Homo sapiens: one gene and its partner. The gene in region 1 interacts genetically with each later gene. Each region holds a gene or a part of one and is shown on either strand. Other genes may lie near its edges.

The links.
Region 2: changes in TTC4 (region 1) and NSMCE1 together harm fitness less than expected from each alone (positive genetic interaction), as found in Homo sapiens cells (one large-scale study listed by BioGRID).

The regions. Positions count from the first base shown.
Region 1 is NC_000001.11:54,736,361-54,739,860, forward strand, and holds part of TTC4 (tetratricopeptide repeat protein 4), read left to right. Parts: intron 1-1,221; coding exon 1,222-1,304; intron 1,305-3,500.
Region 2 is NC_000016.10:27,227,406-27,231,058, forward strand, and holds part of NSMCE1 (non-structural maintenance of chromosomes element 1 homolog), read right to left. Parts: intron 1-3,653. UniProt on the Homo sapiens protein: RING-type zinc finger-containing E3 ubiquitin ligase that assembles with melanoma antigen protein (MAGE) to catalyze the direct transfer of ubiquitin from E2 ubiquitin-conjugating enzyme to a specific substrate.

The DNA of each region.
Region 1 (3,500 bases):
TTGTTCTTTTTTTGTTTTTGTTTTTTTGAGACAGAGTCTAGCTGTGTTGCCCAGGCTGGAGTGCGGTAGGGAGATCTTGGCTCACTGCCAAGATCAACCTCCTGGGCTCAAACAATCCTCCCACCTCAGTCTCCCAAGTAGCTGGGACCACAGGCGTTTGCCACCGTGCCCAACTAATTTTTGTATTTTTAGTAGAGATGAGGTTTCACCATGTTGCCCAGGCTGGTCTTGAATTCCTGGACTCAAGTGATCCACCTGCCTCAGCCTCCCAAGTGTTCAGATTACAGGCATAAGCCACCATGCCTGGCCTGACTTTATTATTCTTAATATAGTTATTTGTTTGATCAGTTCCCCTCCTGTCATCACCACTGGCCCCTCTCCTATGTGGAGCCTTCCTCACCCTACTTGGACTCTTGACTCCACATGTTACGCTGCTGCCCCAGCGTGGGCGTCTTTCTCACCCCGCACAGACTCTGACATCCCACACTGCTCAACGACCCTACATGGACATCCTCCTCATCCTGCTTGGGCTCTGACACCCTACAGCAGGCCACCCCCTGCCATGAGTGGTCACCCTCCTCACCCTAGTTGGGCCTGTAAACTCCATATTACTTGTCCCCATGCATGGATACCCTTTTCACCCCACATGGCCTCTGACACCCCACCTTGGACAGCCATCTTACAAGGGAGCACTTCTTCCCCTGCTCAGGCCTGCTGGCCCCCAGCATGGATGCTCTTCTTCACTGGTCCTGCTCTGACACCCCCGGGAGCTTCCTGTGCAGGCGTCTTCCTCACCCTGCTTGGGCTTTGACACCCTGCACAGACATCCTTCTCTCCTTCTTCAGGCTCTTTCCTTCTCTGAGCCACCATAGCTTTCTCCTCCACATACCTGATGGCTTTAGTCTGATTTGTTAGGGAAAGGAGGGCTACATAGGCCTGGCCTTGAGTCTTGATTCTTCTGTTTACCAGCAGGGTAATGTTGGCAAGTTGTTGTTCTTCTCTGAGCCTTGATTCTGTCTTTGGAAGATGGAACTGATAATAGCCTCTTTTACAGTGGCATGGCGGGGGGGTACTAAATGCAAAGCACCCAGCTACACAACCATATAAAGGAGGCATTCAACTACTAACCGTTGCCATCTTTTTAATTTTCCCTGGGCTTAGCCTCAACTAAGGCTGCCGAAGCCTTTATCTCTGACTCTTGCCCTTCTGTTAATCTTGCAGGTCTACTTTGAGGATGAGGACAGGGCAGAACTATACCGGGTGCCTGCCAAGAGCACCTTGCTACAGGTTCTACAGCACCAGAGGTGAGTCATCTCATGGCGCTGAGTAGATTGGGGAAGATGCTCAGTGTATTAGTCCATTTTCACACTGCTGATAAAGACATACCTGAGACTGGTCAGTTTATAAAGAAAAGAGGTTTAGTGGAGAACTCACAGTTCCACGTGGCTGGGGATGCCTCACAATCATGGCAGAAGGCAAGGAGGAGCAAGTCACCTCTTACGTGGATGGCGGAAGGCAAAAAGAGAGAGCTTGTGCAGGAAAACTCCCTTTTTTTTTGAGATGGAGTTTTGCTCTTGTCGCCCAGGCTGGAGTGCAATGGTGTGATCTCGGCTCACTGCAACCTCCACCTCCCAGGTTCAAGCAATTCTCCTGCCTCAGCCTCCTGAGTAGTTGGGATTATAGGCACCTGCCACCACGCCCGGCTAACTTTTGTATTTTTAGTAGAGACGGGGTTTCACCATGTTGGCCAGGCTGGTCTTGAACTCCTGACCTCAGGTAATCCACCTGCCTTGGCCTCCCAAAGTGCTGGGATTACAGGCATGAGCCACCACTCCCGGTCAAAAACTCCCATTTTTCAAAGCATCAGATCTCGTGAGACTTAGTCGCTATCACGAGAACAGCACAGGCAAGACATACCCCCATGATTCAGTCATCTCCCACCGGGTCCCTCCCACAACACATGGGAATCATGGGAGCTACAAGATGAGATTTGGTTGGGGATACAGAGCCAAACCATATCACTCAGGCACCATCCGAGGAGTAGAGCCAGGTTCTCATTCCGCTGCTGACTGATTGCCTCATACTCCCCTCCCTTCTGCCCTGAGCACAGAGCTGTGTGAGACAGCAGCCATGGAGACTGGCCGGGCCCATAAAACTCAGCCATTGGTCAAACAGGCTCCAGTGTGATGATAGCCCACTGCACCACAGCCATAACACTCCAGACCAGGGGAGATAAATAGGACTGGTCTTTGAAGGGAAAAGCTGCCTGGCTTTTTGTACATGAAGGCTGCTAGGATGGCCTTTTTTTTTTTTTTGAGACGACATCTCGCTCTGTCACCCAGGCTGGAGTGCAGTGGTGCGATCTTGGCTCACTGCAACCTCTACCTCACCCCCCAGGTTGAAGTGATTCTCCTGCCTCAGCTTCCTGAGTAGCTGGGATTACAGGCGCCTGCCACCATGCCTGGCTAATTTTTGTATTTTTAGTAGAGACGGGGTTTCACCATGTTGTCCAGGCTGGTCTCAAACTCCTGACCTCAGGTGATCCACTCACCTCGGTCTTCCAAAGTGCTGGGATTACAGGCGAGCCACTGCACCCGGCCAGCCTTCCTTTTCCTAATCGTACCTATACCTATGTCTCCTGATGCTCTTTCTTTTGTTTGCTTTTTCTTATTTTGAATTTTTTTTTTTTTAAATAGAGATGGGGTTTTACCATGTTGGCCAGGCTGGTCTTGAACTCCTGGGCTCAAGCAATCCACCCACCTCAGCCTCCGAAAGTGCTGAGATTACAGATGTGAGCCACCACACCCAGCCCCTAAAATTTTTTTTTAAATTATTTTTATAATAGAGACAGGGTATCTTCTCCAGGCTGGTCTTGAACTGGGTTCAAGCAGTCCTCCTGCCTCACCCTCCCAGGTAGCTGGAATATCAAGTGCATGCCAGTGACCCGGCTCCTGATACTGTCATATGAAGAAAGCATTGGCTCTTGAAGTCAGACCCATCATCATTTACTGGCTGTGTGACTCCAAGCACACGCTGCCTCTCTGGGACTGCCGCCTCATCTCTGGAATGGGAGTAATACATGCCTACACATTTCTCAAGTATTTGAGAGCCAATGACAGGATAGGAGTTGAAGTGCTGTTGTAAACTGCACAGGGCAGTCCTGCTATAGGAGGGCATCTTTGTCATTAGCAGTGGCAGCAAGTTGGATTTGGCAGTTGTCTCAGAGAAGCTGTGAGGTGTTCCTGGACTATAAGGGAAAGCCCTCAGCAGATTTGCAAATTGACTCTTGGACTACTTTTCCTTAAGCTTTGAGCAAAGCAAAGCAGAGAAAAGCAGATGCTTTTGCACTTAAGCTAAAAGAGCCCAATGTATTAGTGTAAAGAGAGTGGTTGGATGTGGTAGGAAATGAGGCTAGAAAGCTAAGTTAGGGCCATACACGAAGGCCTGAATGCCCTGCTAAGGAGCGTAAACTTTATCCTGATTGTGGTGTACACCAGGGT
Region 2 (3,653 bases), on another chromosome or scaffold:
GGAGCCTCCAGTGGAAGCCAGGCCTCCTGGTTCCCATGCCAGGGTGCGGTCCACCCATCATGCATCCTGAAATCCCTGGGAGAGCCCGGAAGCACAAGAACAATGCAGCTCCCCAGGCCGACCCTACTGCCAGGTCACAGGAGAAAGGCAGCACTGAGGGAGACCCAAGGCAGGCAAATGACACGGGACCCAGGACATGGACCCATGCAGGCTGATTCCAGTTTCTCCACAGTCAGCTCATGCATCGGATATGAACCACACCAGGAGATGACGTCACTGACGCCTGCAAGTCACCCGAGTGCTCAACTGCCTTTTCTGTTATTTTCTAATTTTTAATTTTTACAAGCAAGAGCTGTCACTCCCGTTTCTTTTCTTTTCTTTTTTTTTTTTTTTTTTTGAGATGGAGTTTTGCTCTTGTTGCCCAGGGTGGAATGCAATGGCACAATCTTGGCTCAATGCAACTTCCGCATCCCGGGTTCAAGCAATTCTCCTGCCTCAGCCTCCTGAGTAGCTGGGATTACAGGCATGCGCCACCACGCCTGGCTAATTTTGTATTTTTAGTAGAGACAGGGTTTCACCATGTTAGCCAGGCTGGTCTTGAACTCCCGACCTCAGGTGATCCGCCCACCTCGGCCTTCCAAAGTGCTGGGATTGCAGGCGTGAGTCACCGCACCCAGCCCACTCCCGTTTCTGACAGGTAGAGCCCCCCACCCCATTCCCACCTTCATCCCCACAGTGCAATGTGGAGGGGTGTGCTTGCGTAATCTGGGCTCACAGTGCGTTCGCTCTGGAACACCAGTAGAGGAGCTGGGTGAGCACAGGAAGGAAGGCAGGGCAGAAGCGTGGGGTTGGGGCATGGACAGCCGCTGCGGGAACAGTGGAGGGAGGCCGGGGCACCAGGTGCTTGTGCCCTGCACCGCAGCTGTTGCTGGTGCACAGGGGCTTTGTGTCATCCAAGTGCTGTGGGCAATGGGAGGATGTGACCAGCCCCCAGGCTGTCCTCGGTCCTCAGTCCTATGGCTGTTACCTTCCCCCAAAGCTCCCAAATCCATCATGGCACCCCACCTCCCTGGCCACCGCCCTCTTCCAGCCTCCCCTCCAGATCCATCACGGCACCCCACCTCCTTGGCCCCCACCCTCTTCCACCCTCCCCTCCAGATCCATCACAGCACCCCACATCCCCAGCCACCACCCTCTTCCACCCTCCCCTCCAGATCCATCATGGTACCCCACCTCTCCAGCCCCCACCCTCTTCCACCCTCCCCTCCAGATCCATCACAGCACCCCACATCCCCAGCCACCACCCTCTTCCACCCTCCCCTCCAGATCCATCATGGTACTCCACCTCTCCAGCCCTCACCCTCTTCCACCCTCCCCTCCAGATCCATCATGGCACCCCACACCCCCAACCACCGCCCTCTTCCGCCCTCCCCTCCAGATGCATCATGGTACCCCACATCCCCGGCCACCGCCCTCTTCCACCCTCCCCTACAGATCCATCATGGCAACCCACCTCCCCGGCCTCCACCCTCTTCCACCCTCCCCTGCTCCTGCTGCTCTCTGAGCCCACTCTCCTCCAGCAACGCACTCGCTACCGAACAAGCCTGGCCCTGTCACTCCCAACTCACCCCCACCCCAGGGCTTCCCACCACCCTTAGGTCCAAGAGCCAAGCCCCTAATACGCGTATCTCCCGGGCTGCCCTCCGTCTGCTCGCCTCGCAATCTTTGTGCTCAGATGGCCCTGGCCTTAGCTTCTTGAGTGCACCTGCTGGCCACAGGGCCACTGCCGGGCTGATGATCCTCCCACCCCAGGCTCCAGGCAACTCCCACACAGCCTTCAGCTCAAGTGTCACTTCCTCAGCAGCTGAGGGCCGGTTCCTCTGGGACAGCTGTCATAAAGCCATGTTTCCTTTCCATCTGTACCAGGACTGCAGTGAGATGACCGTCTCACTGATCTCGGGCTCCCCCTCCAGACCATGGCCCCATGGGAGCGGCCACCAGCTCTGGCTGTGCTCACTCCTGTGTCCGCAGCACCTGCTGTGGGGCCCAGCACTTGGCAGGCCTGTGATAAACACCCACGGGAAGATGAAGTAGACCTTGCACTGATCCCAAAGGAATGCCTGACACTAAGCAAGTTCAAGCTCAGACTGAGGCAGGAGCTGCATTTATTTTTTATTTATTTATTTGAGACAGAGTTTCGCTCTTGTTGCCCAGGCTAGATCATGCAATGGCACGATCTCAGCTCACTGCAACCTCTGCTTCCAGGGTTCAAGCGATTCTTCTGCCTCAGCTTCCCGAGTACCTGGGATTACAGATGCCCGCCACCACACCCAGCTAACTTTTTTATATTTTTAGTAGAGACAGGGTTTCACCATATCGGCCAGGCTGGTCTCAAACTCCTGACTTCAAGTGATCTACCCGCCTTGGCCTCCCAAAATGCTGGAATTACAGGTTTGAGCCACTGCACCCAGCCAAGCTGCATTTACTGAACACCTGCTATGTGCCTGAAACTGCACCCAAGGCTCACCATTCATGACCCACTCAGTCCTCTGAGGGCCCATCAGGGGAGGGGCAGGAGGGATGCCCTAGCCCTCAAAGACGACGACAGCCCAGGTGATCTCCCAGGCGCCTCGCCACAACACTTGGAAGTCAGGACCTCGTGTAGGGAGCAGTCCTGGGGTGTATGGAGGTGCGCCGATCAGCAGACGCCCAGCTCCCATGAGCCGCGCTTGCTCTCAGAGGCCTCCCCGCTGACCCCAACCACCTACCACCCCTGGGCCTTCTCCTGGACGGACAGCTGCCTCAGCACCTCCATGCCGGGCCAGTCTCACACAGGACTGGCTGTCCAGGAGTGACGTGTCCTTGGGGTGATATACCCACCTGGAAGGGCCTTGTCAGTGGGCCCCTGGCTATTTCTGTGGGAAGCCCTGTGTCTGAGAGGCCAAGGATCAGACACTGACATGTGGTCTCTCTGATCGAGGTGCTGCCCTAGGAAGACCTGTCCTGGGTAAGTGAGCACCCGCCCCGGTTCTCAGTGATTCCTCCAGAGTGCCGCAGACCTCAAGGCAACCCTTACCAGGCCATGTAGGTCAGAGAGCACTGGACCCTCACAGAAAACACCTGGAGCTGGCAATGTCCCCATCCTGCAGATGAGGAAACAGTCTCCGCAACGAGAAGCTGCTCACCACAGGCAGCGGAGGAACCTGGAGGAGTCTCACCACACAGCCCCTGCCACATTAGCTTCGTTCCTTCGTCCTCCTGAGGGCCCCAGCAGGCCAGGCAGTCAACAAGAAGCCTCTCTAGGGCTACTGCCCAGCGCCAGTGCTGAGGGCCCCCTGCTACTTCTGCAGCGCTCCTGCAGGTGGCAGCTCCCGGATCCTCTGTCCACCCTCCCTCGAGCTCAGAGGCGCCCTGCAGAAGGTGGTGCCAGCACTGCCACCGAACTGAGAAAGGCACAGAGTACAAGCGCCTGCAGCCACAGCTCACCGCCACAGACTCCAGGGCGGGGCCTCTCCTATCCACCACCGCCCTCTCCAGACACCAAGGGCAGACAAAGGGCAAGTCAAACCATAAAGCTGGGGGCACGCCCTGCAAGCCATGCACAATGGTGGCAGCATGTGCTAGGCATGGTGCTCTTGGGTGCAAAGCAGGGT